7 linked regions of the Homo sapiens genome follow. The protein of the gene in region 3 purifies or fractionates together with the protein of the main gene of each other region. This does not show direct contact. Each region holds a gene or a part of one and is shown on either strand. Other genes may lie near its edges.

What was found.
Region 1: the proteins of FOXI2 (region 3) and PDS5A purify together in Homo sapiens (affinity purification with mass spectrometry; one large-scale study listed by BioGRID and IntAct). This does not show direct contact.
Region 2: the proteins of FOXI2 (region 3) and NSDHL purify together in Homo sapiens (affinity purification with mass spectrometry; one large-scale study listed by BioGRID and IntAct). This does not show direct contact.
Region 4: the proteins of FOXI2 (region 3) and HK2 purify together in Homo sapiens (affinity purification with mass spectrometry; one large-scale study listed by BioGRID and IntAct). This does not show direct contact.
Region 5: the proteins of FOXI2 (region 3) and DLX5 purify together in Homo sapiens (affinity purification with mass spectrometry; one large-scale study listed by BioGRID and IntAct). This does not show direct contact.
Region 6: the proteins of FOXI2 (region 3) and SATB2 purify together in Homo sapiens (affinity purification with mass spectrometry; one large-scale study listed by BioGRID and IntAct). This does not show direct contact.
Region 7: the proteins of FOXI2 (region 3) and SMPD4 purify together in Homo sapiens (affinity purification with mass spectrometry; one large-scale study listed by BioGRID and IntAct). This does not show direct contact.

What each region holds. Positions count from the first base shown.
Region 1 is NC_000004.12:39,822,015-39,825,271, forward strand, and holds the end of PDS5A (sister chromatid cohesion protein PDS5 homolog A), read right to left. Parts: 3' UTR 849-3,257; downstream 1-848. UniProt on the Homo sapiens protein: Probable regulator of sister chromatid cohesion in mitosis which may stabilize cohesin complex association with chromatin. May couple sister chromatid cohesion during mitosis to DNA replication.
Region 2 is NC_000023.11:152,854,646-152,858,627, forward strand, and holds part of NSDHL (sterol-4-alpha-carboxylate 3-dehydrogenase, decarboxylating), read left to right. Parts: intron 1-3,982. UniProt on the Homo sapiens protein: Catalyzes the NAD(P)(+)-dependent oxidative decarboxylation of the C4 methyl groups of 4-alpha-carboxysterols in post-squalene cholesterol biosynthesis. Also plays a role in the regulation of the endocytic trafficking of EGFR.
Region 3 is NC_000010.11:127,735,639-127,740,256, reverse strand, and holds the start of FOXI2 (forkhead box protein I2), read right to left. Parts: upstream 3,073-4,618; 5' UTR 2,984-3,072; coding exon 2,473-2,983; intron 1,738-2,472; coding exon 1,292-1,737; 3' UTR 1-1,291. UniProt on the Homo sapiens protein: Possible transcriptional activator.
Region 4 is NC_000002.12:74,871,973-74,875,954, reverse strand, and holds part of HK2 (hexokinase-2), read right to left. Parts: intron 3,656-3,982; coding exon 3,536-3,655; intron 2,680-3,535; coding exon 2,584-2,679; intron 2,112-2,583; coding exon 2,012-2,111; intron 1,690-2,011; coding exon 1,506-1,689; intron 1-1,505. UniProt on the Homo sapiens protein: Catalyzes the phosphorylation of hexose, such as D-glucose and D-fructose, to hexose 6-phosphate (D-glucose 6-phosphate and D-fructose 6-phosphate, respectively).
Region 5 is NC_000007.14:97,021,609-97,026,075, forward strand, and holds the start of DLX5 (homeobox protein DLX-5), read right to left. Parts: upstream 3,224-4,467; 5' UTR 3,016-3,223; coding exon 2,661-3,015; intron 1,029-2,660; exon of another isoform or gene 853-1,028; intron 762-852; coding exon 577-761; intron 1-576. UniProt on the Homo sapiens protein: Transcriptional factor involved in bone development. Acts as an immediate early BMP-responsive transcriptional activator essential for osteoblast differentiation.
Region 6 is NC_000002.12:199,268,569-199,272,985, forward strand, and holds the end of SATB2 (DNA-binding protein SATB2), read right to left. Parts: intron 4,105-4,417; coding exon 3,643-4,104; 3' UTR 937-3,642; downstream 1-936. UniProt on the Homo sapiens protein: Binds to DNA, at nuclear matrix- or scaffold-associated regions. Thought to recognize the sugar-phosphate structure of double-stranded DNA.
Region 7 is NC_000002.12:130,164,246-130,168,227, forward strand, and holds part of SMPD4 (sphingomyelin phosphodiesterase 4), read right to left. Parts: intron 3,346-3,982; coding exon 3,213-3,345; intron 201-3,212; coding exon 129-200; intron 1-128. UniProt on the Homo sapiens protein: Catalyzes the hydrolysis of membrane sphingomyelin to form phosphorylcholine and ceramide. It has a relevant role in the homeostasis of membrane sphingolipids, thereby influencing membrane integrity, and endoplasmic reticulum organization and function.

The sequences.
Region 1 (3,257 bases), on a different chromosome or scaffold from region 3:
GTTTTGCTCTGTTGCCCAGGCTAGAGTGCAGTGGTGTGATCTTGGCTCACTGCAACCGACGACTCCCAGGCTCAACGGATTCTCCCACCTCAGTCTCCTGAGTAACTGGGACTACAGGTGTGCACCACCACACTCGGCTGATTTTTGTATTTTCGGTAGAGACAGGGTTCACCATGTTGCCCAGGCCAGTCTTGAACTCTTTAGGTCAAGTGACCTACCTGCCTCGGCCACCCTCCCAAAGTGCTGGGATTAAAGGTGTGACTCACTGCGCCCAGCCATGATAGACTTTCTTACCTCTCGTTCTGGTCACCTCTTACTCCAGATACATTTATGTAATCTGCTTGCTCTCTTGAATTTGTTATGGAACTAAATATGTGAGTGCAGAACTTGCAATGAATGGATGAACCATAGACTAATATGAATCAAAGGCTGCTATTAAATTCTTAGGTTAAAAAAATAACTTCTTGGCCAGGTCTGGTGGCTCAGGCCTGTAATCCCAGCACTTTTCTAGGAGCCTGGGGCAGGAGGATTGCTACAGTGAGCCATGATCATGTCATTGCACTCCAGCCTGGGCAACAGGGTAAGATCTCATTTCAAAAAAAAAGCCACCCCCTAAAACAAACCTCGTTTGGAAATTCCGAATGTGCCTCAGAATTTATCATCCACTATGTTCTTCCTTAGCCACTGTAAGCTACCTCAGAGTACCCAGCCAGGAAGTTTGAAGGTGGCTTTTGATTTCTAATTAGGATATTCAGACTCCAGCATCTCAACAGAAAATATGCAGAGACATTTTATCAACTTGTGACATACCAGGGGTACATGAATATTCAGGGCTCCACACTACTATATAATGCTGCATTTCTTGGTTTTATTTGAAACAGTGCATATTTTTAGCATTTTATGGTAGGATTTTACACTTGTCATTTACACAAATTACAAGGTTCTGCTTCAAGTTTTTAAAAAAAATTTAAAAATTCAGCCCATGTGCAGCACAAGAATATGCAAAACTACTTTACATTATACACACTTTTTATCAAAGGAGATACAAAATTCTGGCTTGTTGTTTTAGACAAATACAAGAAGCTTCAAACTAGACACAAAGGGTTAACATTAATTCTCAAATATAAGTCTGCACTTTTGTGTTGTAGTTCTCTGAGATGTGAATACCAAATTCCTAAGGGATTTTAATGTTTTCCTTTGAAAAGGAAAACTAAAAAAATTCCCGTAAACAAGTCCCTCCCCATCAGCTTGGTCTTTCCACAACCCTACTCTTGCTTCCCTTAGTGCCAGACACTTGCATCATGTTACAAAATTGGGGTGGGCCACTTACATCATACAAGGAGCAAATCCTTTTAACTTCTCTCCTGCAAAAATCTAAACAGGAATATATTGATGCAGATGGTTCTGCTACATTTTATTTAATATGATGTAACACTTGGTAATCTAGTAAACTGTGATGCCGGGCAATTAATCAAAGGGAGGAAGAGACAAAGGTCCCTATCAATGCACTTTTTGTTGGTGACACACTGGAAACCTTAGGAATCAAGTTGTCTGATGCTAAGAGAACTTTAAACTCTCTCTAAATAGAACACACCTACTGATTGCTTGAGGGACTTCTCTGATACTTATGCATAGATACTCTTTTTCAGCATGTTGGAGGCAATATTTTATACTTTCTAAAGGGTTCTGAAGAGGCAATAAGGAAGAGTGGGGATTTTTCTGCCCCTGTAAAGGTATCATTTTCTATCATTGGTATCCATTGTTCCCTAAGCATCTTCTGATACCTAAATGTGTGTAAATGCATATTTAAAATAATTACCCATCTTTCAGTCAATACACAGCCAACTCTTGATTATCTATGAGAAACGTAAGTGACATTTACTCTCAAACTTCACTCTAACAGAATCATCCACCTTTGATACACTTGTTTGTTTTACATCCCATGTACACTACAGCCTATCAAGACGAAGTTATAACACAAATGTTGTTTCCTCTGACCCATGCTAGAAACGTGTAAGGAAATGGAGTGAGCACATTCTGCTAGGGCTTTGCGGATGACCCTACAGTGGACAGTGGGGGCAGGATAGAACTCTGGACATGAGAAAAGACAAATTTCATGTTCCTCCAGAATCAGGTCTTACATGCCTTCGTTATTTTGTTATCACAAAATTAAAAACCTGAGGCTTAGTCACTATTTTATATAGATAATGGAGAGTTGACTGTAATCATGTTATGACTTTAGCTCTTTAACATGAAAAAATTCACAAGAAAGCATATGATAAAAAGATTAAAAAGACTGCCATGACATCTAGAAGCATTTATTTTATGCAAAAAACTTAAATATGATTATGTGTACACATAAAGTGCACACATTACCTATGCTGAACAATGCCAAGAAACATAATATATTGATGCAACAGTTTTCTAAAATAAACATAAAAATGAGCCCAGACCATCAGACAAAAGCAAAACACTTATTTCCAAATAGCACAATGCTGAAAATTGATAGCAATCCTAAAACACCTCCAACTTTCCTTAAAAGCTGCCAAAGTCCAACTATTTTTTAAAAATTGATTTTTTTTACATTAATAAAAATCTGGTGACAAACATTATAAAACCAAATGCTGGACAGTCTTTACTCCTTTAAAATTCCAAATATTCCAACATAATCACAGGAGTAAAAACCATTTTAAAGTGATATGCTTTATGAAACAAACAACAATATGTACATTTATTGCAAATTATATTAAACTAAAATGAGGGGAAATCAAAATATGAACTGTTTACTACTTGCAAATCAATAATTTTAATTTTCTCACTCTGATAAAAATCAGAAAGCAACATTTATAAAATTGCTACCACATCACTTTTCATAGCAGGGAACCGAAATCTGTACATCTCATTTTTGCAGAAAAGTAGGCAGGCAGAAAGAATTATACATAAAAGTTTCCAAAAGGAAAAACAAAGAAATATTTAATCTGATCTCTTTTCTTTTAAAAAATTAATTCAGTAGACTTCTATTTTTTCCTGTGTAACATGGGAATTCCTGGCTCTAAAATGGATGAATTTTCAGTGTCAGTGTAAAGACATCTTGTTACTTTCTTTAAAATAAAAACTGCAGCGTGGAAATTAATGGTGTATTACGCATTTAAACTCCAGATAGGCAGGAACTGGAACCAAGTGTTAAGCAATTTGCTTAATTATTGACTTTTCGTAAGAAAAGTCTAGGGGAAGGGGGAGAACAGAGTTGCTTTTAG
Region 2 (3,982 bases), on a different chromosome or scaffold from region 3:
GTGATCCGCCCGCCTCTGCCTCCCAAAGTGCTGGGATTACAGGTGTGAGCCACTGCGCCCAGCCGAGAAGGACTTTTAAAATGTACTTTCACCTGGGTGTGGTGGTATGCACTTGTAGTCCCCCAGCTATTTGGAAGGCCAAGGTGGGAGGATCACTTGAGGCCAGGAGTTCAAGACTAACCTGGACTACATAACAAGACCCCCCCCATTTCTTTTTTTTTAAAAATGTGTTTTTATAGTCAGTAGAGAGAGAGAGAGAGAGAGGAGAGAGACAGATATACATACATATAGATAAAGTTTATGTATATATAGTTATATAGTTTTATACACACAATATGTATTACATAACACTTTTTTTTTTTTTTTTGAGACGGAGTCTTGCGCTGTCGCCCAGGCTGTAGTGCAGTGGCGTGATCTTGACTCACTGCAAACTCTACCTCCTGGGTTCAAGCAATTCTCCTGCCTCAGCCTCCCGAGTAGCTGGGATTACAGGCGCCCACCACCACCCATGACTAATTTTTATATTCTTAGTAGAGACAGGGTTTCACCATGTTGGCCAGGCTAGTCTTGAACTCCTGACCTCAAGTGATCCACCCGCCTCGGCCTCCCAAAGTGCTCGGATTACAGGCATGAGCCACCGTTGCCACCGCGCCCGGCCCATGACACTTTTAAAGTCACCTCGGTCTTGTGCATCTTTTGTTGCTGACAGGAAGTCTACTCTCAAGCCGGTCGTTGTTCGTTTGTAGGTTGTCTGGCTTTCCCTCTTATGGTTTTTAGGATTTTATTTTTTATCATTTATAGTCTATAGAGAATATATCTGGGCCTGAGTTTTAGTTTTGATTTTAAATCTTAACACCTGGTAGGCCTGTGCAATCTGAAGATGAATGTCTTTCCTCATTTCTGGAAAATTCTTCAAAGATTAACTCTACCCCTTTTCTCTCTTTTCTCTCTTTCTAGAAGCCGTGCTGGACATATGGTGGTCTTTCATTGTATCATCTGTCTCTTATCCTCTCTTTCTTGCATTCCTTCTCTTTCTCTTTTTGTACTATTTCATAGGAGATTTCCTCCTCCCTGCCTCTGCTCATGGCCAATCGTGTTTCACCTATATTCCTCCTCAGATTATGTTGAAGTCAATCCTAGACATCATATCATTTTATCTGCAAATATTTCAGTATTTGTCTCTAAAAGATAAGGATTATTTTTAAAAACATTGACAGTAGTTCCTTAGTATCTAGCCAGCGTTCAGATATCCCTGAATGTCTTATAAATGTTTTTGTATTATTGTTTTTCCAAATAAGGAACCAAGCAAGATCAAGACTATGGATTTGGTTGAAATATTTAGCTCTCTTTTAATTTACGATTCCCTTCATTTTTTTAAACTTCAGTCTATTTATTGAATAACTGATGTTTAGTAGAAACCATGTTTATGGTGCTGTAGTATTTCCCACAGTCTGGGTTTTGCCGATTACATCCCCATTGCGTTTAACATGCCCTTCTGTCCTCCAGTATTTTCTGTATACTGGTAGATCTGGGATGGCGCTGTCCATTAAGGCAGCCATTAGCCACGTGCAACTATTGGGCACTTAAAATGTGGCAAGTCAGAATTGAGAAGCACTGTAAGTGTGAAGTCCACACCAGATTTCAAAAACTACCTACAGAAAAAAGGAATGTAACTGTCTCATTAAAGTTAATTTCACCTTTTTCTTTTTACTTTTTAATGTCATTACTATAAACTTTAAAGTCACTGTGACTTTTATTATGTTTCTACTGGACTAAAGACTTGATCGGACTCTGGTTCAGTTTTTCCCTCTGGGGTATTATTACTTCTGATACTCCAATAGTAATAAGCATGCCTAGTGCTCAGATTTGGGTTTCTATATACCATTTCCCATAAAAAGAACTAGGGCTTCTTGGGAAAATTGCTCATTCTAGGACCCTAGGGCAAGGGCAGTACAAAATGAGTCTGGGACATTTTCTTAGCACAAAATGAATGGGGACCTGCCAAGAAGATACAAGAGCCAACTTGAAGGGCTTCCCCTGGCCAAATTTGGGACATTTTGAGCATTTTGAGCCTCTCAAAACATAACAGTAGTGGATGACAATGCATTTTGATTTCAAAAAGAATCCGTGGGCTGGGTGCAGGGCTAGCGCCTGCAATGCCAGCACTTTGGGAGGCCAAGACAGGTGGATCACCTGAGGTCAGAAGTTCGAGACCAGCCTTGCCAACATGGTGAAACCCCATCTCTACTAAAATACAAAAAAATTAGCCGGGCATGGTGGCATACGCCTGTAATCCCAGCTACTCGGGAGAATCGCTTGAGCCCGGGAGGCAGAGGTTGCAGTGAGCTGAGATCATGCCACTGCACTCCAGCCTTGCCGACAGAGCGAGACAATGTCTCAAAAAAATAAAATAAAAAAGAATCCATGGGTCCATAGAAATACTGAAAATAACAATTGGGGTCAGGGAGAAGGGGAAGCTCTACAGAGGAATGCCAACTAATAAATGTAAAGGCCATGAATTAAAAGGCTAGACTTAGAATGTCACCATTTTATACCCAGTACATTGATTATTGTTCCAGGCAAGGACTATCAATAAATGCTGAGGTTAATTGGTAGAATTAACATGCTACAGATTACTTATCAATTGCAAAGGAAAAGGTACCTTTTTGATGGCCGGAATCTGGCAGCCATCATCATCACCACGTGCTCCAACTTAATATCACCAAAAGTGGGACAGACTTGCACCTCCTGAGGTAATTCCCTGAGAAGGACACACCACCACTGATGTGGTATTCTTGCCAAAACCATTAAGCCTGAATCTAATCTTGAGGAAACAGACTAATCCAAACTGAAGGACAGTCTATAAAATAACCCAAACCCTTGAAAAATGGCAGCATTAAAATAAGACAGAAAAGACGGGAATTTGTCTCAGATTAAAAGAGATGGAAGAGACCTGAGGACTAAATACTACATGTCATGCGCAATTGGATCCTGGACCCCAAAACAAAAGGCTATAAAAGACATTACTGGGACAATTGGGGGAATTTGAATATAGACTAATTATTGGATAAGAACATCATATCTGTTAAGTTTCTTGAGTGTGATCATTGTTTTATGGTTATTTAGGAGAATGCTTTTGTTCTTAGGAGATACCTGTGAAGCGTTTAGAGGCAGCATGATGTCTGCAACTTACTTGACTGGTTTCAAAAAAAAAATCATGTGATTGTATGTAGAGAGAGGAAATTGTGGCAAAATATTAATTGGCACATAATTGTCATAATTGTCTTTTGGTGACAAACATGAATCATACTTAGATCATATTACTTAATTAAGGTTTGACAAAATGATGACATGCTATTAGTCTTCATTTAGTAGCTCCAGTCTTTATACCTTAATGCAGAATAAATATTTGATTCTTTCCCTTTATTTACCTGAATTTTTATTCTTGCTTGTGGTCAAGCTGTCCCTTCTTTGCCCAGTGGGAACCTCTTCAGGTTGGCCCTTGAGTGCTTTTAACGTGACCCCGGTAGTCTTAGCTAGCTAGCATCCTCACTCTCTGGTACAAGGTGTGCCTGGTTCCTCTTGTGTGTTTCCTGTCCCAGATCTGCAATCAGCCATTTCTCTCAGGAGCTCTTGTTCCTTTTAGCAGTAAATCAAACAGACCTGTTTTAAAAATCCCTTTCAGGTTGCTGTATTGTGTCAAGTTTCACAGGAAGGAATATGCCTGTGTATTGGCTATTTACTGTCTTTAATGGTGTGGAACTTTTTCATGTGATTCATAATTTCTATCTGAGTTCACCTTCCTGGGGAGTTTTACCTCCTAGGTGCCTGCTCTGAACCACCCAAAAGGATGTTGCCTCTGTGTGGATCCCACAGGCTTCTCATGCCCCAAACCCCTTTTGACTGGGGACTAGTTAGTGGGGAGAAGGTGATTAAAGGGACAACTTGGTTTCCATCCCATGTACTTCGGTATCATTGATTC
Region 3 (4,618 bases):
ACCAAAACAAGTGTGGCCTTCCATGAGCCTGTGTGAGTGTGGGTGTGGGTGTGGGTGTGGGTGTGGGTGTGGGTGTGGGTGTGTGAGTATGAGTGTGGGTGTGGGTGTGAGTATGAGTGTGGGTGTGTGTGGGTGTGAGTGTGGTGTGAGTGTGGGTGTGAGTGTGAGTGTGGGTGTGAGTGTGAGTATGAGTGTGGGTGTGAGTGTGGGTGTCAGTGTGAGTGTGGGTGTGAGTGTGGGTGTCAGTGTGAGTGTGGGTGTGGTGTGAGTGTGGGTGTGAGTGTGAGTATGAGTGTGGGTGTGTGTGGGTGTGAGTGTGTGTGGGTGTGAGTGTGGGTGTGGGTGTGAGTGTGTGTGAGTGTGGGTGTGGGTGTGGGTGTGAGTGTGGGTGTGAGTGTGGGTGTGAGTGTGAGTGTGAGTGTGGGTGTGGGTGTGGGTGTGGGTGTGAGTGTGGGTGTGAGTGTGGGTGTGAGTGTGGGTGTGGGTGGCACAAACCTGGACCCTTGGGGAACTCCTGGGTGCTGGGCACCGCTCCTGTGGTCAGTGGTGGCGGGGCCCTGGGGAGTTGCCTTGTCCTAGAGGGGGGTCATCAAGGACCAGGGCTGAGTGACAGGGAAGGGAGCTGGTATCCCAAGGGCGCTTTCTGCCCACGCAGTGCTTCTCCCTCCCACCACCAGCAGTTCCAACCATTAGCAAGACCTTCCTTACACAGGACCCAATGCCAACTGTCTCAGATCCCCTCACTGCAGGCTCCTGGCCCACCTGGAGCCCACTGCAGCTGCTCCTGAGCTCTGTCCCCCAGCCCCTGCGGCAGCTTCCCTGAAGCAGAAGGGAAGGCCCTGAGCCAGGTGGGCCAAGCTGGGTGGAGGTGGAAAGGGCCCCCACCACCTGGGCCGCTCTGGCAGCCCACCTTCTTCCCATCTGCTCTAAGGCTCTTTGGAGTCAGCCAGCCTCCTTGGAAAACGCTGGAGCTGAGGGCCGACCCGCCGCCCCTTCAAGGCAAATCCCTCGAGAGCACAGGTTCTAGACGCCCAGGGCGGCTGGACTTAGAGGCAGAGCAGGGAGGTTCCGAAGGTCGCCTGGGTGAGGGGTGCACAGCAGAAGGGCCACCCACCCCAAAGCCCAAGAGCCGCTCAGCCCAGCTCCCTGCTGGCCGAGCCGCCCCCGGCTCTGCGCTTCCTCCCAGGGCACCAAGGCCTTCAACGCCAACACGTGGGGCTGTCACCAGGGGAAACCGGAGGCCTGAGCTCAGCACCTCTGGACCCGCACCCGGCTAGCCTCCAGCCTCCCTTCAAACTTCGGTCCCTTCCCGGCTGTAGAGGAGGTGACTGAGGCGGAAGCCGGCGGCCGCGGTCTGGTGGCCAGGGGCGAAGCCAGGGGAGGGGTTAAGGGTCTGGGGAGCGTGGGTGGCGACTGTCGGTGGCCGCCTCCCGAAAGAAAAGTCGCCCGCCAGGCCCCCGGGGAAGGTGCCAAGGCCGCCAGCCAGAGCGCTCATAGCAGAAGCGAAACCGGAGAAGCAGGTGGCGGCCTCGGGTGCGGATGGAGAGGGCGAGGCCTGCAGGTCCAGGCAAGCCGCGCTCGGGGGCTCCAGCGCTGGCGCCTCGGCCCCTCCCACGCTCCTGGCTCCCGAGCGCACGGCCGCGCTGGCTTCAGCTCTCCTCTTCCTCTTCCTTCGGAAGTTCCCGTTGTCAAACATCTTCTCGCAGTTGGGGTCCAGGGTCCAGTAATTGCCTTTACCTGCAGAAGAAGAAACAGCCCAGTTCAGAAGGTTCGAGCTTTGACGGGCCGTGGTGTGAGCCAGCGAGGAGGTCAGCTTCAGAAAGATCCCCTGCTGGCCCTTACAGAGGGTCTGAGTCCTCGCCCCCATTCCACCCTTGACGGGCACTCTGTACCCGATGGGCCTCCACAGCAGGACTGGGAAGAAAGTGACAATCCAGAAAGGAGGAGGAAGGGAGCCCTGGGAAAGGCCGAGCCCCGTTAAGGTGAAGGAAGGCCTGCGAGATGCTAATGGTGGGACTCCGCCAGCCGCTCTGCCAAGGACAGCGCAGACCACGCCAGGCCCCCAGGTAGGCTCCAGAGCTTTCCAAACGGGCATCCTATTTGTTTTGCCCATCCTTGGGGTAGGCGCTGTCTTCCCCATTTTACCAGGTAGGGCACTGAGGCCCAGGGAAGTTGAGTCACTCCCAAGGTCACCCAGCTTGCTGGCTCTCCCGCTTCTTCCTCCGAAGGAGCGCACAGAGATTGAGAGCCCCGGGACCGCCGCACTGTAAACGCGGGCCTGTGGTGGGCTCAGCCGCTGTCTGAGAACCTGTCCATGCCCAAGCACTTCTTCCCCTTCTCCCTCCTCCCCGGGTATCCCCAACCGCGCAGGGAGAAATTAGGTTGTCTAAGGTGCTCCCACCCCCGGAGTGCCCGCGGCCCGGCGGGAAGATGGGGAGTCCTGGACGGAGCGAGCCGGCGCGCCGCTGTTACCTGGGTCGTCCTCGTCGCGGGGCACCTTCTTGAAGCAGTCGTTGAGCGACAGGTTGTGGCGGATGGAGTTCTGCCAGCCCGCCTTGCTGCGCTTGTAGAAAGGGAAGTTACCAGCCACGTACTGGTAGATCTGGCTGAGCGTCAGCTTCCGCAGCGGCGCGCTCTGGATGGCCATGGCGATGAGCGCCGAGTAGGAGTAGGGCGGCCGCACCAGCCTCAGCAGCTCCTGCTGGCCGGAGAGGCTCAGCCAGGCGAGGTCGGCGCCCGCCAGGCCGCCCGGGGCGCCGAGGAGCGGGCCGGGAGCCCCGTAGCTCGGGGCCGCGTAGGGCGGCGCAGGCCCGGGACCCGAAGCGTAGGACTTGGGGCTGAGCGCTGGCGCGTTCACCCACAGGAGGGGGCCCCCGCCCACCGCGCCCAGATCCCCTGGCTCATAGCCCGGGGGGTGCGCGGTGGCCTGGGCCTGGCCGGGCGGGGCCGAGGAGGGGCCCAGGTCGTCGCAGTAGGTGGCCATGTCCAGCCGCGCCCGGGCCTGGGCCAGCGGTGCCGCACCGAAACTCACTGGCGACCCATCCAGCTTGGCCGCCAGCAGCGCCCGGGTGCGACCAGCCCGGCCCAGCCCTCCGCCCTTTAAACACCGTCGGGGCCAGAGCCCATGGAGAGTGACGGTGGCGAGCCCCTCCCCTGGCAGCCCTGGAGGAGCGAAATCCTTGTCCTCGCCCTGGTGTCAGTTTTCCGCCCCGCCCAGGCCTGACACGTCCTGGACCGGACGCCCCTCTGATTCCCCCTTCCTCCTTTGTGCGATCCGTCCCGAGTCCACAGTCGCTCGCGGTCTTGGTTGCAGGGACCCTAAGTCCGTAGCCTCGTCTGGCTTCACGGGCCCCGCAGCCCCGACTGCCCTGGACCGTACCACGACTCCTCAAGGCCCCCAGGGCTGTGGCTTGGGAGCCCCGTCCAATGCGCGGCCCCTTTGCTCGGCTCGGGACATCTCGCCCCAAAGAAACTCGCCTCGCCGGGGCCCCTGGGTTACCCGGGACTCGGGGCTAGGGATAGAGGGCGACTACACTGCGCAAGAGATCGCAATGAAGTCCGTAGATCTCCAGGCTGGAGCCGCAGAGCGAGGTGGCGAGGTGGAGAACGCGGGGCTGGGCCTGGACAGCGGCCCTGGGGTCGTCTGGAGTCCTCGCTCCCTCAACCCGGAAGGCAGCGGACTGACATCTGCGCCGAAGTCGCGCGTACCCCACGGAGGGTCGGGACCCTGGAAATTTCGAACGCCCCAGCAGTTCAGGGCAGTCATCGCTTTTCCCAAGCCGGGGAGTCCGGGGCCCCGCCAGGTTTCTCCGCGCTGTGACCTCGGGCGCGCAGAGCGGAGAGCGCCAAGCTCTCTGCTGGGTGTCGGAGGACGCGCCGAAAACAGGGACGTCTCTGCAGTGCGTCCGACACCAGCTCTCCAGTCCTGCTGCCGCCCGGGGTTGCTGCAGCCCGGGTTATCCCGGCCCCCCAAGCTGCCCGGCTTTCGGCCTCCCCTGCTCCCCGCGCTGTGGGGTGGCGGAGGATGGACCCAGGCTGACGCTGGGCTGGGTACCTGGAAAGAGGGCCCGCCTCCCGGACTCCGAGTCGGGCACCTGTGCGAAAGAGGCGAAAATTCAGGCCTGGTGCTCAAGGCTCAGAGATGAGGAGACCTCCCCATCCCCCCAGATTCCTGCCGGCGGTGTTGGCGCTGACCTCCTGGAAGCTGGCCTCGCCCTGGGTATTCCCCAGCGTTACGCGGGCCTGTGGATCTAATTTTAATTCATTTGTAAAACAAAAGGACCAACCCTTCCCGACTTTTGGCGGTGGAGGAGGCTTGTAGGTTGAGGCCAGCGGTTCGATCGAGGAAAGAGTTTGGGTTTGGGGATTAAAGGGCCCATTTGAGTCAGCGACTTACTGGTGGTGCAGCCCCTCGGCCTCCCAGATCGTAGTTCCAAATTTTATGTAAAACAACTAATTTATGGAACAATTTAACAAATGGCAGAAAGAAGTGAGAGTCCCTCTGTTGGGACGTTGGCCTCTCGCCTTAGAAGTGAAGCCCCTTCAGAAGTGGTGGGTGAACCGAAGGCATTTCCCAAGCAGTCAAGAGAAAAGAAATACCCCAAAATGGTTCTTTGAG
Region 4 (3,982 bases), on a different chromosome or scaffold from region 3:
AAATTGTCTGTAGTGACTTCAGGGCTACCATGGATGACAATTTGGTGGGTGTCAAAGGATAAGCCGGGGGTGTGCTGTCATGGTCTGGCTGGCAAATTTGTCTTTTGACATTTGAAAGGGCCTTTAGTTCCTCGGAATGACTTGGGTGTGCCTCATTCATGGAGGCAGGCACTGAGTGACTTTTCAGCTCATAAACCTCTCATCAGCCATGGCAGACACAACCAGTATGATCCTCAGAAATTTCAAGTAAAGGACTCATTTCAACATGTGAAACAAGCTTGTGACTTAGATAAATAAACCATGCTTTGACAAAGCAAGGACTCTCAGGCCGGGCGCGGTGGCTCACGCCTGTAATCCCAGCACTTTGGGAGGCCGAGGAGGGCGGACCGCCTGAGGTCGGGAGTTCGAGACCAGTCTGGCCAGCATGGTGAAACCCTGTCTCTAATAAAAATACAAAAATTAGCTGGGCGTGGTGGCAGGCGCCTGTAATCCCAGCTACTCAGGAAGCTGAGGTAGGAGAATCGCTTGAACCCGGGAGGCAGAGATTGCGGTGAGCCAAGATTGCGCCATTGCACACCAGCCTGGGCAACAGAGAGAGACTCTGTCTCAAAAAAAAAAAAAAAAAAACGAAAGCAAGGACTCTCCTGGGTTACCCACCACTGACTTGATTTATAGGGTTCAATTTTCCTGTCCAAGTAGAGATCTGCACGAAAAGCTTTTCTACAACAGTCACAAGACCAGAGATGATCTGTATTGCTCAAAATATTTTGCAACTGCTTCAGACCTTGAAGCAATCCCTGTTTCAAGATCTTTCACACGCACATTTGGCAAATGTTTGTGAGGGTGAAATAAGGTTTTGTAAGAGATAAAAGCAACTAAAAACAAAGGCAGGCCAGGCTGGAGAATACAATATTCAGGATCCAAAATGCTAGACGCCCCTCCTCCAATCCATCCCAGGACATAGTTGGGCCAAGGTCCAAGTGAAGGAGGCCAAGGAAGCTCCTCAGCCAATGTCTCCAGGGGCCATGGGTCTGCCTGCAGCTGCAGCAGGAGGCCCTGGGACCCCAGGGAGCAGCAATGAGCAGCCAGCTGTCAGCCTGTCCTCTGGGTGGTGATGGAGTTGGAGCTATGAAAGGAGCTTTCAGAGACCCCAATCTTGGCCACCTCAACACAACTTTCCTTAGGTGGCTCACAGTTCCCATGGACAATTTACAAATAGAAGGTGGAAAGAAAGAGCAGGGCCACCCACTTACACTCAGAATAGAACCTTCCAAAATGACTCCTGTGAAGGAAACACATTATTAGCTATAATCTGGTATATCCGCTTGCTCTCTGTTTTAGATCCTCTCAGCAATTTATAGTCACAGACATTCCTATGACCAGTGGCCACCTTGGCAAGCTTTGGGGATGTAAGACTGTAAAGAAACAACCCCCTGGCCCCGACCAGCCCCAGACTCAGCTCCAGGCCCCCGCCAAGCCCACTCGCACAGGAAGGGCCTACTCACAGTTGCTTTCCCGGGTTCAGTGAGCCCATGTCAATCTCCTGGTCAAACTCAGTGCGAATGTCGTTGAGCGAGCCATCGTCCCCGAAGGCCCCCCACTCCATATTGATACACATCCGCCCCTCATCGCCTTCCACCATGTCGATGTGGCGCATCTCTTCCATGTAGCAGGCGTTGCTGCCCGTGCCTGCCAAAACAAGGGACGGCTATGCACACGCCTGCTCCGGCCCCTTCCCACCCCTCTTCCCTCTTATACTACTGTCCCGAGACTGCCCGGCCAGGATGGCTGGGATTTCTCACTGCAGACTCTGGGGGCATCACAATACATGGTCTAATCTTCTGCCACCCCCAACTCCATGAGTCCCTGCTCGGCTCTCCAAAGTGACTGGACCATTATCTTCTAATATGAACTACAAAGGAACACCCAGCCCATGGGCCCCTTCTCCCTTTCCAGCCCACACCCCCATCCCTTGGCCAGCACGGGCCCTTCATGCACGGTGTTCACTCACCCACAATGAGACCAATCTCACAGTTGTGGTCATCATAACCACAGGTCATCATGGTCCCAACTGTGTCATTCACCACAGCCACAATGTCGATATCAAAGTCCTGTGGAGACAAATGGGAGGGCTCTGACCTTCATCATCACAGAGGGCGACTTTCCTAACACCAGCTATATATCACTCCTCCTCCTCCTCCTCCTCCTTCTCTCTCTCTCCCCCCTCCCTCCCCATAACTCCTCCTGTGATAAGACTTTTAATTCATTCTCTCTCTGAGCCATTCCACTCCCATGTCAACATCATTCCAACTTTCTTACTTGGAAATCACATTCAAGTCTTCTTCAGGTTAAGAACTAAAGAGCTTTTCTTGTGCCAAGGCTAAGATTATTTATCCATTTGATAATCTAAAAACCCCCAAAGCAGCAGATCGCATACAAAATTATTGAGTACATGTGTCAGGGAAAAGAGAACTCTCCTTAAGCTCCACGTAAGCAAACAATGATGAGTCAAGGACACTCAGGGAGTCTTCAGGGTGGACCCAGAAAAGCCCACAGACCCCAAGCTCCTGCCACCCCACTCACCCCTCTCCTCTGGATGGCCTTCCGGATCAGAGCCACAACGTCTCTGCCTTCCACTCCACTGGACTTGAATCCCTTGGTCCATGAGACCAGGAAACTCTGGAAAGGGACCAAGAAGTGAATATTGATTTCCCACTAAAACTGAAACTCACACCACACCCCTCAAACCTCCGTCATTAGCAGAGACCTCTGCCACTGGGGTAAAGTCATGATTGAATTTGTGTGTTACTTCCTGGCTAGCCTAGGAAAAAGAAACTCAGGACAACTGGCACTATAAGACACAGTCATGTGCCGCATAACAATGTTTCAGTCAGTGACAGATTGTGTATACTGCGGTGGTAACAAGATTATAATAGAGCTGAAAAGTTCCTATTGCCTAGTTAGATACACAGATATCACTGTGTTACAATTGCCTATAGCATTCAGTACAGTAACATGCTATACAGATTTGTGGCCTAGGAGTTAACAGGCTGTCCCATACAGCCTAGGTGTGTAGTAGTCTATACCATCTAGGTTTGTGTAAGTGCACTCTATGATGTTTATACATAAGTGAAATCACCTAATAAAGCATTTCTCAGAACATATCCCCATTGTTATGCAATACATGACTGTACTTGTGTCCTTACATCATTAACTCTCCAAGTATCTTTCTTCCAAGGGTCTTTATCATAACACTTTAGACTGGGGAGTTCCTGATTTCTCATTCCTGTTTCTGTGGAGGGGATAAGGATACTGTGCAATGTGTGTGGGAGAGAGGGTGATAAAGGGCACTCCCAACCCCCCAGATTTCTTCACCAGCCCCCCCATCGACATACACAGTCACCCAGAAAGGCAGAACTTCATCTCCACAATCCTCCAGTGCTACCACCACCACCACAGCAGGTGGCTCAGAAGTCCCTCTCAGCCCTCCCAGCCCCAAGAGTGAAGCAACAAGTGTCTGAGGAGCCCATCTTACCTCGTCTAGTTTAGTCTGGTGGCAGGGGAACGAGAAGGTAAAACCCAGTGGGAGCTTCTTGTCTTTGATTTGTAGCTTATCCATGAAGTTAGCCAGGCATTCGGCAATGTGGTCAAACAGCTAAGGATACATGACACAGGGTGGTGAGCAGAGAGGTCGAACAGCATAGAGATTAAGGGCATGCACTTCAGGCTCAGCACGTAACTAGCTGAATGTGTGCAAAACCCATATCTCCTCTGATATCTTCATTTGCTCACCTACAAAAAGGGAATTATAACTGGACCTGTCCTCATGGAGTTATGAAAAGGAGTACATGAGTCAATACATAAAGGCTTAACATTAGTTTTTGCCCACTAAATATTGTCCTCTACTTAAGCCATTTTTCTAAACTGCTGTCAAGATAACCCTGTGAGGTAGGGGAAATCATGGCCAACATTAATCAGAAAG
Region 5 (4,467 bases), on a different chromosome or scaffold from region 3:
TAGGCCCCAGCTGGGTTGGAGGAGTAAAAGGAATGGGACAATCCAGGAAGACTTCTCACGTACAATAGCGCCCCCCACCTCGCGACCCTTCGGTGGCCGTGGCCTGAAGCTCCCGTAGGCTCAGGGCACGACCCTTCAGTTTCTCCGCTCCAGGCGACGTTCTCAGCCTTTTCTTAGCCTGAGACCACCGCGAGAACACCAGGCCTTGCTCACCCCCGAGGAGGCTCTACATTGTTAAGAAAACCAGATAGCTGCTCTGGGCTGCCTAGGCCGCCCTAGAAATAACCCTCCGCTTGCTTTCAACCCGCGAAATTGGCCCCACAGCTCCGGAGGCCCGCTACGGGGTGGGGGCGGGGGGCGCGGTTAGTGGGAGGTATCTCCAGACCGCTGATGAATACCATCCCCACCGTCTCAAGGCCTGACTCACCGAGTTAAAGCATAGGGGCTGATGTCTTTGGGTCTGTTAGTTTCTCACGGGTACTGTCAAAACAGCTCCAGTCCCATCGAGACTGAACCGCGCGACCCAACCAGACGTGCAGCTCAGGCAGGTCTAGTGCATGGCAGCGCCGTATTTACCTGTGTTTGTGTCAATCCCAGCGAGGCGGCCAGCTCGGCGCGTTCCGGCAAGGCGAGGTACTGAGTCTTCTGAAACCTTCTCTGTAATGCGGCCAGCTGAAAGCTGGAATAAATAGTCCTGGGTTTACGAACTTTCTTTGGTTTGCCATTCACCATTCTCACCTCGGGCTCGGTCACTTCTTTCTCTAAATAATCAAAACAGACTCAGTTAAAGCTTGTCACCAGACAATGCCCCTTTTGCGGAAGGGCCTCAAATAGAGTCCTAGAGTTTCTTACCACTCAGTCTTCATTCTTTGCCCATATCACCACCACCTTTGCTTTTCAGGACCGCGATAAATATGCACCTACCCCAAATATGGAAAAGCGGGATAGCCTCTGATTAATTCCTACTCTGTTCATTCAGATAGTTTGTGCAAAGCGCTTCCTACAACACTGCTTTCTCCTTGGCATCTGGGATTCAGCTCTTGCGGTCGTTGCTTCTTCTCCCGGACTTGTTTTTACGCCCACCCTGTGCTCCTCCGCGTTTCCGCCCCTCCCCAGGCTTCAAGAACACCAGCCCCTCCCCAGGCTTCAAGGAGGTGGCCCTGGGCCGTGACCCTACTTCTGTCGGCGTCTGTTCGGGCGCCCGCAGAAGCCAGACTCTTGGGCAGGGAAGACGCTAACCGAGGTCTCCAAAGTTCAAAGACCCACAAGCAAACTGCTCCTTCACTTCAGCAGCAAGCGGTCGGGGCCGCCGCAGACAGAGGGTCGATTATGCAACCCCCATAATCTCGCTGCAGATCTGCGAGGGCACAGATGTGTCTGGTTTCTTTTACAAATAGACTTAATATGTTCTTGGCAAAAAAAAAAAAAAAAAAAAGAAATCTTCCACTTATGCACGGAATACAGAGAGAGTGAAAGAAACGTAGACACCTCAACCCGGGGCTCTCTTTTAAAGTTCAGCAAGAGTCACACACTGAGAAGGAACCGGTGGTGGGGTGTTTTCGTAGGAAAGGGGCGGCAGGTCAGGATGAGATTCTCACTGTCATGAGTATGGGTTTGGGCGGGAGGGGGAGGGATTGCCAAACGCGTGTTGTACAAACCTGCCCTGGGGCTACAACTCCCCTTCCTCAAAACTACCACCCCTCTGGAACTGACGGAGAACCTCTCCAGGGTGTGTGTGTGTGTGTGTGTGTGTGTGTGTGTGTGTGTCAAGTTCCAGGGAGAAGTGTGGAGGATGAGGGCTGTGGTCTCAATTCTGCCAGAGTAGGGGATGCTAATATTAGCAGGATTATTAATGTGCTGGTGGGAAGAGATCAAACCTTACCAATAAAACCTCTCCGCCGAGCCTCATGCCTTTCTCTTACCGCCCAAGCTCACTAACCCTCTTAAACTCTCTAAGTAAGTTTCAAAGCGGACGAAAAAGGAGGACGGAAAGACAAATTGTGGGCGCCTATGGAGACAGAAAAAAAAATCTATCCTACAACGTGACCCCTCAGCAACCCTCCTCCACCTTTAAATGGCTTTTTGTTTTTGGAAATGCCTGGATAAACCGCAAAACTCTCGGCGCGCTCTTCTCTGGCTGGCTACAACTCCTTAACCCCCCCACCCCCACCCAGCGTGCTCAGGGCACCCGCACCGTGCTAGCTTGTGGCGGCTCTCAAACTAATCCTGACTGAGTTTTTGAGGCAGCCTTCTATTCCCACTCGCACCAACCCAGCACGCTTACCAAAATTCCCAAGTAACCTTCTCTTTGTTACGCAAACGCCAGGAGCTGCTTGATTCTTTCTTCTCTCCACCCCTATCCCCTTTCCAGCCTAGCCGGCTTCCTGGCCGGGCAAGCTGGGAATTCAGCGACTGAAGGGCCTTGGAAGGTGCCGGAGGGGAGAGACGCTAGTTCGAACCTCCACAGGGCTCTCCTACTAAAAATCCCTAAAATGCTGGCCCGAGAAACTCTCTTTGTTGGAGGGTCTGAGTCCTACTCCCTTCTGCCGCGTGCGCCCCCACTGCCGTGAACCGCTGTGACCCCCAATCTACCACCCCATCTCGCGCCCCCAGCGTCCTAGTCGCCCTGTATCTGCCCAGCCTTCCCCCTGTCCATGTACCTGGCTGGTTGGTGGCGCTTGGGACGCGGTTGTAGGCGCCGCCGTACTGGTGGTAGGAGCTAGCGTAGCTATAGTCGGCATAAGCTTTGGCTGGGTAGCTCCCGGCGGAGCCGTTCACGCCGTGATACTGATACTGGTAGGGGTTGAGAGCTTTGCCATAGGAAGCCGAGGTAGGAGAGCAGTAGCCGTGCGGGGCTCCCCCCGTAGGGCTGTAGTAGTCAGAATCGGTAGCTGAAGACTCGGGCAAAGTTGGCGATTCCTGAGACGGATGGTGCATAGCTGCGGACGTCTGGAACGGAGCTTGGAAGTCGCCGGATCGGATGCTGGGGACCCTTCTGTCAAACACTCCTGTCATCGCTCACGGGCGGCGGCAGCGGCTGTCCTTGCTGTTGTGGCGGCGGCAGCTGCCCTAGTTGGCTGTGGGGCTGCTCTGGTCTAAGCAGACATGGCTGTGGGAGCGAGGGAGGAGGAGGAAGAGGAGGAGGAGAGAAGGAGGAGGCGGCGGCCGCGGCGAGGAGGAGACTGGGAGTCGTGAAGTCTCTGTCTCCGGCCGGCTGACTGCTGGCTGAGGCGCAGCACAGCCTTGGTTAAATCCTTAATTGCGCGCTTACGCACAGCGGGGTGGATCTGGTTCTATTGGCCAGGGCCTCGGGAGCAACAGTAACACCCTAACTCGTCCAACTAGTTTTAGCACAACAAAGCATTGCTTAAAAAGGGGGTGGGGGGTACTGAGGGGGTGTGTGTGTTTGTGTGTGTGCGCGCCCGCGCGCTTGTGTGTGTTTTTGCTTGTTGTGGAGTGGGGAGGGGTCTTAGTCTATCTGTTTTTAGTAAATTCCAAAGACATCGCAGAAGCCACAGCACAAGGCTCTGTGATGTCTGGGGACAATGTGTTCCAATCAGAAGCCTCAAAAGTGCACATGTTTTGGGAATGAGGTGGGCGACCATCTTTCCTTGCTTCCCACTACCCCGCCCCCGTGGGCTGCACCAAAGGCGAGTGTAGAATTAAACACTGATACTGAAATAGGGAGTCAAGGTGCAGGGAGTGGGGAGCGGGGGGATGTAGGATGGAGGCAAGAAGGAAGGGAAACAGCATTTTTTTTTTTTTTAGTGGAGTGTTGGGAAGCAAGTTGTAACTTACATGTTTTGAAAATTTGCTCTTTGGGGAAAGAGGCAACTTCCTTTGCAGGAGATGAGTATCTCCCGGACGCGGGCTGGACAGGAATGCCCAAGAAGGCACAATGTCCATTAAGCCGGTGAATGGCAGGGAGAGTTCCTGCAGCCCAAAGTCCTTATAATGACTTTTAAAAATTACTGTCTTAAACACATATAACTTAAGGAAGCCCAAATCCTCGTTGCTGGCTTGCAAAAAGAGCCAAACAGCTCCACTTCTGTTTAATATTTTCATCTATTTTCAAGACATTGGAATAAAGGCTCTTTAACTATGTTCAGTGGCCAAAGACTCCCGCAAAGGTGAATGGATCCATGTATAACCTGCCATACCTCCAGGAAAGAATGGGAAAGTCTCGGAAGTGGGGAAGGAGACAAGGATCAAAGCCTTTGCAAAGTCAGATGATGCTCATTGATTTCCCCCTCCTGGCTCCATGAATGTGGCCCAGTCTCTCCATTTCCCAGACCCGGGTTTCTGTACCCTCTCCCCTTTATTTCCTGCTGCAAAGACATCCTACTTAGCTCGTATGCAAGGGAAGAAAGGATTCAAGAATCATTCAGTTGATACACGAGATCTAAACTTTGCTCTTCAGGAGGTGCTATCCTTGTTCTAGTCGTGATTCAGCTGGGAGTTTAGAAA
Region 6 (4,417 bases), on a different chromosome or scaffold from region 3:
GCTAAAAGTCATTATTTCACAAATGCTTTTCTTCTTTGTCTTTAGTCTAAATGCAGAGTTCATTTACATTTGCATAAATAACGTTTCACCCTGTGTTGAGCCTCTAGCTGTTTTTAAAAACCTTCAGCACCCTGAAGCTGTCTGCCTTTCTGCAAACACTCGGTTTTCACAAATTATCATTAAAACATATCTACATGGTTCATGGGCTGTTAAAAAAGGTAAGGGAAACCGAGGAAGAAAGAGAAGTTACATCTGTATGTCAATCAAATGCAGAAAAATGGAAAAAAAAATAAACAGGAAAAACATTTACAATATCAAAAGAAAACAAAATCACTTTTTAATTTACTTTTTCTTTGCCAGTTCTGAAGCGAAGCACTTGCTCTTTCCTTATTAACATTAGTCTTTTGAGCAGTTTTTTCCATTGTAAGTACTTTCTAAAAAATCATTTTCACACATTTCTCAGATACATCAATCCTTTCAGCATTCCTCCATGCACACATTATGGTACCCCAGCTCTAAATATAAAAGACTTTTATTATGTCCATTAACCATGGACATATGTGCTCCAAAAGTTTCCTGACACGCAGTCATTTGTGGTTTTTTAATTATAAACAGAAAATATTCACTAGAAAAATAAAACAGCAGCCTATAAATATATCTTTATACATTTGAGTTTTGTTTGTATATGACAAAAGATTGGATAAAGGAAGTGAGCATGCATGTGTTTATATACACACAGAGACACACATACATTCACATGTGCTATTAAATCCATGCACTGTACAGGACTCATATATCTGTAATTGCAGGTACCACTGTCTTGTTTCTAAAATAAGGGTACAAATTTTCCTAAGACTCACCAGGTCTCTCTCTGCATGAAAAATTAAGTGGGAAAGCAGATAATGCCCAGTAAAATAACTGACAAACAAAGTCATATTTATTGAATGCGTTTATTTTAACAACCAAAAAATTCTAACAGCCTAACAATGCACATAAGTTAAAAATTAATTATCACTTAGTGATAACAAAGATAGTTGATTTACATGGAAAAAAGAACATTTACAATATGTTAATCCTTATTCACATTGTTGATACCGCAATAAAACACAATTTGTTTTTTTCATTTCACAAAAAAAAAAAAAGGCGGGAAATTGTGCTTTGTCAAGAGGCACTACAAGAGAAAGTTTCTTCTTCCAAATAGATATTATATGACAGATATTGAATAAATAGACATATATGCATTGTAATTCGCAAAGATCTGGCAAGACCACAGGCTAAAATGCCCACAGATTCACTTAGAACCACTGCAAACTTGGCAGTGAAATTAAAAAATAAAAGGCAAGACTTAGCATTGAAAAATACCTAATAAATTTTTGGTTGAAGTGTAAAAGATACCAAATGCGGATGCCATCGATAGATGAACCACCTTGTAAGAGCTTGGCAAAATCAGTTTCCATTACGTGTACAGAGTGACCTTCAGCAACAGTGTAAGAAGACAATTTGGAAAGAGTAACTCGGAGATCAGGAAGCAGCAACCATGGACTTTCTGATTAAAGCTGCAGCATACTACAGAAATAGGAAGGATGGGGCCAGGGCTAACTGCAAACAACCATCCTTTTGCAAAGGTATATGACGCTTATGTCAAGATAATTTTTAAACATCATTATTTGAAAAAGTACAGGAAAATGTCCCTTTAAAAACTCCAGAGGTTACTGAGCAGCTAGAATTAGCTTGTATTGCAACATGTCTTCTCCCTGTATATTGTAAGTTCTGAGTTAATATCTACACATAGAGGTTTTTTTTTTAACTCCTACCTTTTATACCTTTCAAATATATAAATAGTATTAACAGTTATATTACAATGTTTGTGTAGTAAACAGAAAATAACTTTCAAAGTGATATTGCATGAGGTCTTTGACAAGGTTTTGTGAAAGCACAACTCAAAAAAAAAAAAAAAATCCAACCATGTGGGACTGTTTAATGGCCAGTTTAAAGCATGGATTACGTTCACTAGGCCAGTCCTGAATGTGAGGTCTCCTCTTGCAATTACTGTAAGTAGAAGTGGAAAGTAATGCTTCTGGTGTTTCTCATAGGAAGCCGAAAGAGATCTGGAGTACTATAGTAGATTGCAGCTTTAATGCTCATCCCATTAAACATCCAGTCAGCATTAGTTCTGCTTTACATAAGGTAATTGCGATGTAGGTAACTGGGATAATGTTTTCTTTTAGGATGAGTAAGTGATTCTACTGAAATCGCTTCACATACTCTATTGCCTGGAGCTGCACAACGATTCAAAAACAGTTCTTGTTAGGGCTGTCATCCCAGGAAAAGGGACAGGAGAGATCAGGGACTGAAAATGTTTGATTAGGTAGATGGAATGTGTACGAAGAAGAGGAAGCCCAAAGTGAAGCAGAAATCAGAAATGTCTTTTGGGAGAGGGAAGGATGGAGATTTATTTGAGAGGGAGCCCCTTTAACTGGGCAGCAACTTCTTTTCTAACTTAATATTACACTGAACTATTTTCTAGTAAAAAACAAAAAGACAAAAAAACAGCAACAACAAACAACTTTTAAACGAGCAGGCTTATTAATTTTCAGATTTGAAGCCACAAGCAGGTAAATAAATTTCACAACAAAATGTGGCTCATACTATGAATTCCATATGTCCAATGTCAAAATGTCATTTGATCAAGACTTGCACTAGTGGACAAAGTTTTCTCTGCACTGAATTTCAGTTTTACTTATTTGGAATTCCACAGAAATGCATCTGTTCACTACAGTAATGACAAATTGAATAACGGAACGTAGCAAGTCATTTTATTGAGTCATTTTAAGTGTGCATTGTGTCTTTAAGATTTATTTGACTTGTATCATTTTAATGTGCCCTGATTGTTTTCACTTCACTTTTTTTTTTTTCGGCAGTGTCGTTTATTTTGTTAAATACATACCTCAAAAATTACCCATTAAGCTGCCAGATAGGAAGCCATAGAATTAAAAAAAAAAAATCAGGGACAAACACAAAAAATAAATAGGAATTCAAAAATAGTCACCCCACCCTGAGAGCAGGCCGCAGTTTATCAAAAAGCCAAAGCGACTCACTGTGAAGTGGTTTTTTTAATACATAAACAAGTCTTTTCTTTAAGAACTCATTTCACAGTCTATTCTTTCGGATTGCAAAGTCTCTGTCCCATGCAATTTTAATATATATATGTAAATATAGAGATATATACATATACATATACACACACACTTGTAGCTTCCTTCATTTATTTCATAGTTCTTTTCATCCTGGTACTTGCCTGATGTAACTTCCGTTAAGTGCAAGGATAATGAAGGCAGAGTCTCCTGTGATTATAATGACTATGATCCAGTCATAGAGACGGGATAAAGTGTAACGCTTTAGTGTCTTTGCCAAGGCGATGTCTGATTCGGAAATACTGAACTTATTCAGTCTATAGGTGTATCCTGTGCAACAAAGAAATGTCCAAAAGGGTAAGAAAAACAAAACAGACATAAAAAGACAAAAATAAAGCCAAAAAAACCCAAAAACAAAAACAAAAAACAAACTAACAAAAAACTTTTAAAGAAATGAAAGCAGAAAATCCTTGGACCGATGTATTGCTTTGCCTAGTAGAAGTTCACATTATCTCTGGTCAATTTCGGCAGGTGCTGCCTTGCTTTTGTCAGCATTTTCCTCCTCAGCCTCCACTTTGTACATCTCCTCGGAGCCTTCCTCGCTGTCGTTCTCCTCTGACTCGGTCAGCAGCTCCTCGTCCTTATATTCAGCCACGTCCACCGCGGAGCCCAGGTGCTCTTTCAGCTTCCCGTGGTGCTTCACGTGGTACCGCTGGTTCTGGAAGAACTTGATGATGGTGTGTTTGGGGAGATCCAGCTGAGCCGAAAGAGTGTGGATGGCTTCCTGGTCTGGGTACAGGCCTACATCATGAATAAAGCTTTGGAGGATCCCCAGGGCTTCTAAGGAGATCTTTGTGCGAGACCGGGGCTTTTTGGCACAACTGTCTTCAGTCGGAGGAGGTGGGGGAGGCGCTTCTTCTCTGGGAGGGGAACTCTCCTTGGCTGGCTGAGACTGCTGTCTATGAAGTACCTGATAATTAAGAGAGAAAAAAATGAACACTGGACTCATGATTTTACCTTTCCAAAACCATCAGCCCTCTGAAATATGTGTTATCTATCTAGCACTGGAGGTAAGCTATAGTCATTTGTAAAGTCAGGTCTTTGGAAAGCTTAAAAGCATTTCTGGACATTTAGTATCTCACCTACAAAACAGGAGGTTCATAACAGTAGTATTTGCCATCATTTATATTCTGAGATGCAAAGTCAAGTCATTTATTGCCTAAGGTCATCTCACTTTAGGCAACCTGGCTTCAGAGTCTTCTATACCTGTAACCACCAAGATA
Region 7 (3,982 bases), on a different chromosome or scaffold from region 3:
TGACAGGTGGGTGGTGGGTTTCTGCTTCCCACCATCCAGCCTGTGAAAACTCACTCAGAGGCAGGATAAGAAGCAGCAGGCTGAGCAGGGTCAGAAGCAGGAGGTGGGAAGAAAAACTGAAAACATACCTTGGCATGAGGGGACTGCATTTTTTGATACATCTCCAAGGAATAGTGATGAAGCCACATTTCAACAAAAACCTGCAAAAAAGCATTAGCTAGTCAAACCATTCTTGACAATGGTGTCAGACCATCCAGTGGGGAAAGGACAGTGTCTCCAACAAGCAGAGCTGGGAACACAGAATACCCATGTGCAGAACAGTGAAGCTGGGCCCTTCCTTCACACCATCACCAAAAAATAACTCAAAATGGGTAAGCGACCTGAGGATAAGCACTAAAACCATACACTCTTAGAAGAAAACATGGGAGAAAACTTCATAACACTAGATTTGGCAATGATTAATTAGATATGATGCCCAAAGCACAGGCAACAAAAGGAAAAAAAATAGACAACTAGACTTCATCAAAATCAACACTCTTGAGCATGAAAAAATACTATAGATAGAGTAAAAAGGCAACCAACAGGCATGGTGGCTCAACCCTGTCATCCCAGCACTTTGGGAGGCCGAGGTGGGTGGGATTACCTGAGGCCAGGAGTTCCAGACCAGCCTGGCCAACATAATGAAAATCTGTCTCTACAAAAAATACAAAAATTAGCTGGGTGTGGTGAGGCATCACACCTATAATCCCAGCGACTTGGGAGTCTGAGGTGGGAGGATTGCTTGTGCCCAGGAGTTTGAGACTGCAGTGAGCCAAGACTGCACCACTGCACTCTAGCCTGGCAACAAAGACAGACTCTGATTTAAAAAAAAAAAAAAAAAAAAAAAAAAAAAGGGCTGGGCACAGTGGCTCACACCTGTAATCCCAACACTTTGGGAGGCCAAGGCAGGTGGATCACCTGAGGTCAGGAGTTCGAGACCAGCCTGACCCAACATGGAGAAACAGTGTCTCTACTAAAAATACAAAATTAGCCGGGCGTGGTGGCGCATGCCTGTAATTCCAGCTCAGCTACTCAGGAGGCTGAGGCAGGAGAATCGCTTGAACCCAACAGGCAGAGGTTGTGGTAAGCCAAAATCGTGCCACTCCACTCCAACCTGGGCAACAAGAACAAAACTCGGTCTCAAAAAAAAAACAAAAAAAAAACCCAGCAACTCAAGTGTCTACTGAGAGATGAATGAATAAACACAATGTGGTACATCCACACAATGGAACACTATTCAGCCCTAAAAAGCAAGGAAATTCTGACACATGCTGTAACATGGATTAATCTTTAGTCCATTATGCTAAGTGAAGCATGCTACTCACACACAAATAAGTACTATGTGCTACGCATACTCTGGGTATGAGATCTAGGAGTCAACTCCATAGAAACAGAGAGCAGAATAGTGGTTGCCAGGTGCTGGGTGGGGAATTGTTTAATGGTTTGATTTCCTTGTTTTTCATTAGAAGAGATGGGGTCTCACTATGCTGGCCAGGCTGGTCTTGAACTCCCGGCCTTGAGCAATCCTTTCCTGCTGGGCCTCCCAACGCACTAAGATTAGAGGTGTGAGGCCCCTGCGCCCGGGCTGGTTCAGTTTCAGTTTTGCAAGATGAAAAGCATTCTGGAGATTGCATGCACAACAACATGACTGTATTCAACACTACTGACTGTACACTTGGAAATAGTTAAGACAATAAGTTTCATGTTATATATATCTTATAATTAAATTTTTTTCTTAGTTAAAAAAACAAAAAGGGCCGGGCACGGTGGCTCACGCCTGTAATCCCAACACTTTGGGAGGCCAAAGCAAATGGATCACTTGATGTCAGGAGTTCGAGACATGGTGAAACCCCATCTCTACTAAAAATGCAAAAATTAGCTGAGCATGGCAGTGGGCACCTGTAATCCTAGCTACTCGGGGGGCTGAGGCGGGAGAATCACCTGAACCTGAGAGGTGAAGGTTGCACAGAGCCAAGATTGAGCCACTGCACTCCAGCCTGGACAACAGAGGGAGACTCCATCTCAAAAAAAAAAAAAAAAAAAAAAAAAATGCTTTGGCCCAGGGAACAGCAGAACCTTCCAGTTCTTCCCTATAAGCGCTGTGTCATGATCTTCTGCCCTCTTCATGGCCAGCACAGCCTACGGTCCACACAGCCAAGAGCCATCTGGGCATCATGGTCCCCTCTGTGAACAGGGGCAACGGTTCTTACCATTCCACCCTGCGAGGATGCTGTGAAATGGTATGGAGGCTTCAAAAAGTGCAGCACCCCAAATACTAGGAGTTACATATAAGATGGGAGATAGAATCCTATCTTATCTACATGCCAGGCTGTAAAGCAAGGCTGTGGCTACCAAGTCAGCCCCAGGATCCAGCGTCAGAAGCAGCACCTGCTGAATCTCTCTGTGTGCCTAGAAGACACAGCCAGGACCTGGGAGTTGGCCAGCACTCAGGAAGTGAGCCAGCCCATACCATCCTGACAGGCTGGAGCCCCTCTGGGCAGACAAGGAAATCTGTCACCTACTACTTGGATCCCCTGAATCAATGGAAGGCCTGTGGAGGCTGCACAGACCCCTCACCATTCAGTGTCATGGAAACCAAAAGACTCTGCAACAATTATATCACCACAGGCAAAACGAAACAACTTCCATGGACAGGGGATCCTGGGATGAAAAACGCCATCAATGACATTCAAGTTAAAAGGGTGGGCAGATTTACTTTCATGTTTTCTAAATGTCACAGCAGGAAAATATCAACAATTTAGAATCAGCCCCGGGCTGAGGGGCCGCCTCTGGGACTCTGCCCCACATAGTGGAAGGTGGCAACAGTTTCTTTTCTTTTTCTTTTTTTTTTTTTGAGATGGAGTCTAGTTCTGTCACCCAGGCTGGAGTGCAATGGCACGATCTCAGCTTACTGCAGCCTCCACCTCCTGGGTTCAAGCGATTCTCCCGCCTCAGCCTCCCGAGTAGCTGGGATTACAGGCGCCTGCCACCACGCCCAACTAATTTTTGTGTTTTTAGTAGAGACGTGGTTTCACCATGCTGGCCAGGTTGGTCCCAAACTCCTGACCTCAGGTCATCTGCCCACCTAGGCCTCGCAAAGTGCTGGGGATTATAGGCACGAGCCACCATGCCCAGCTGGCTGAACAGTTTCTTTTGACCAGCTCAACTCTCACCTGGAGCAGAGTTTCTGACCTCCAGATCTCGTGGGAGGCGGGGTCTGCATTCACAGACGTCTGATGAGAGATGTGTCGCTTTAGGAGGCTAGTGTGGTGGAGGCCATAGGAAGCAAAGGGTATGGCTGGTGTCCTGAGGGAGACACAGAAACAGGCCCGAGTTACAGGCTCCCGCTGTAACTCGCTCCCGCTGTAACAGGGGCAATCTGGATATCAAAATCAACGAGAGCAGGGACAGATTACAACTTGTTCAATAGCACAATGCACACCTCCCCCCAGCCCCCTGATCCACACTGATATACCTGAATAAATAAATAGCAAAGAGAGAAGTCTTCCTTACCACAGAGTGACCATTGACCCACAAATCAATGAAGGAGGGATGAAGTTAGAGAACCACCATTTAGTAACCGCCCTATTAATAGCTGATTTGGTCAAGAATCAACAGTGAGGTTGGGCATGGGGGTTCACACCTGTGAGCATGGGGGCTCACACCAGCACCTTGGGAGACCAAGGCAGGAGGATTTCTTGAGGCCAGGCATTTGAGATCAGCCTGGGCAACAAAATGAGAACCTATCTCCACAAAAACATTGAAACATAAAACAGCTGGGCCTGGTGGCATGTGCCTGTAGTCCTAGCTACTTAGAAGGCTGAGGAGGGAGAATGGCCTGGGCCCACGAGTTGAGGCTATAGTGACAAATGATCGTACCAACTTCACTCCACCCTGGGGTGACAGAGCAAGACCCTGTTTCTAAAAAATTAAGAAATTCCCA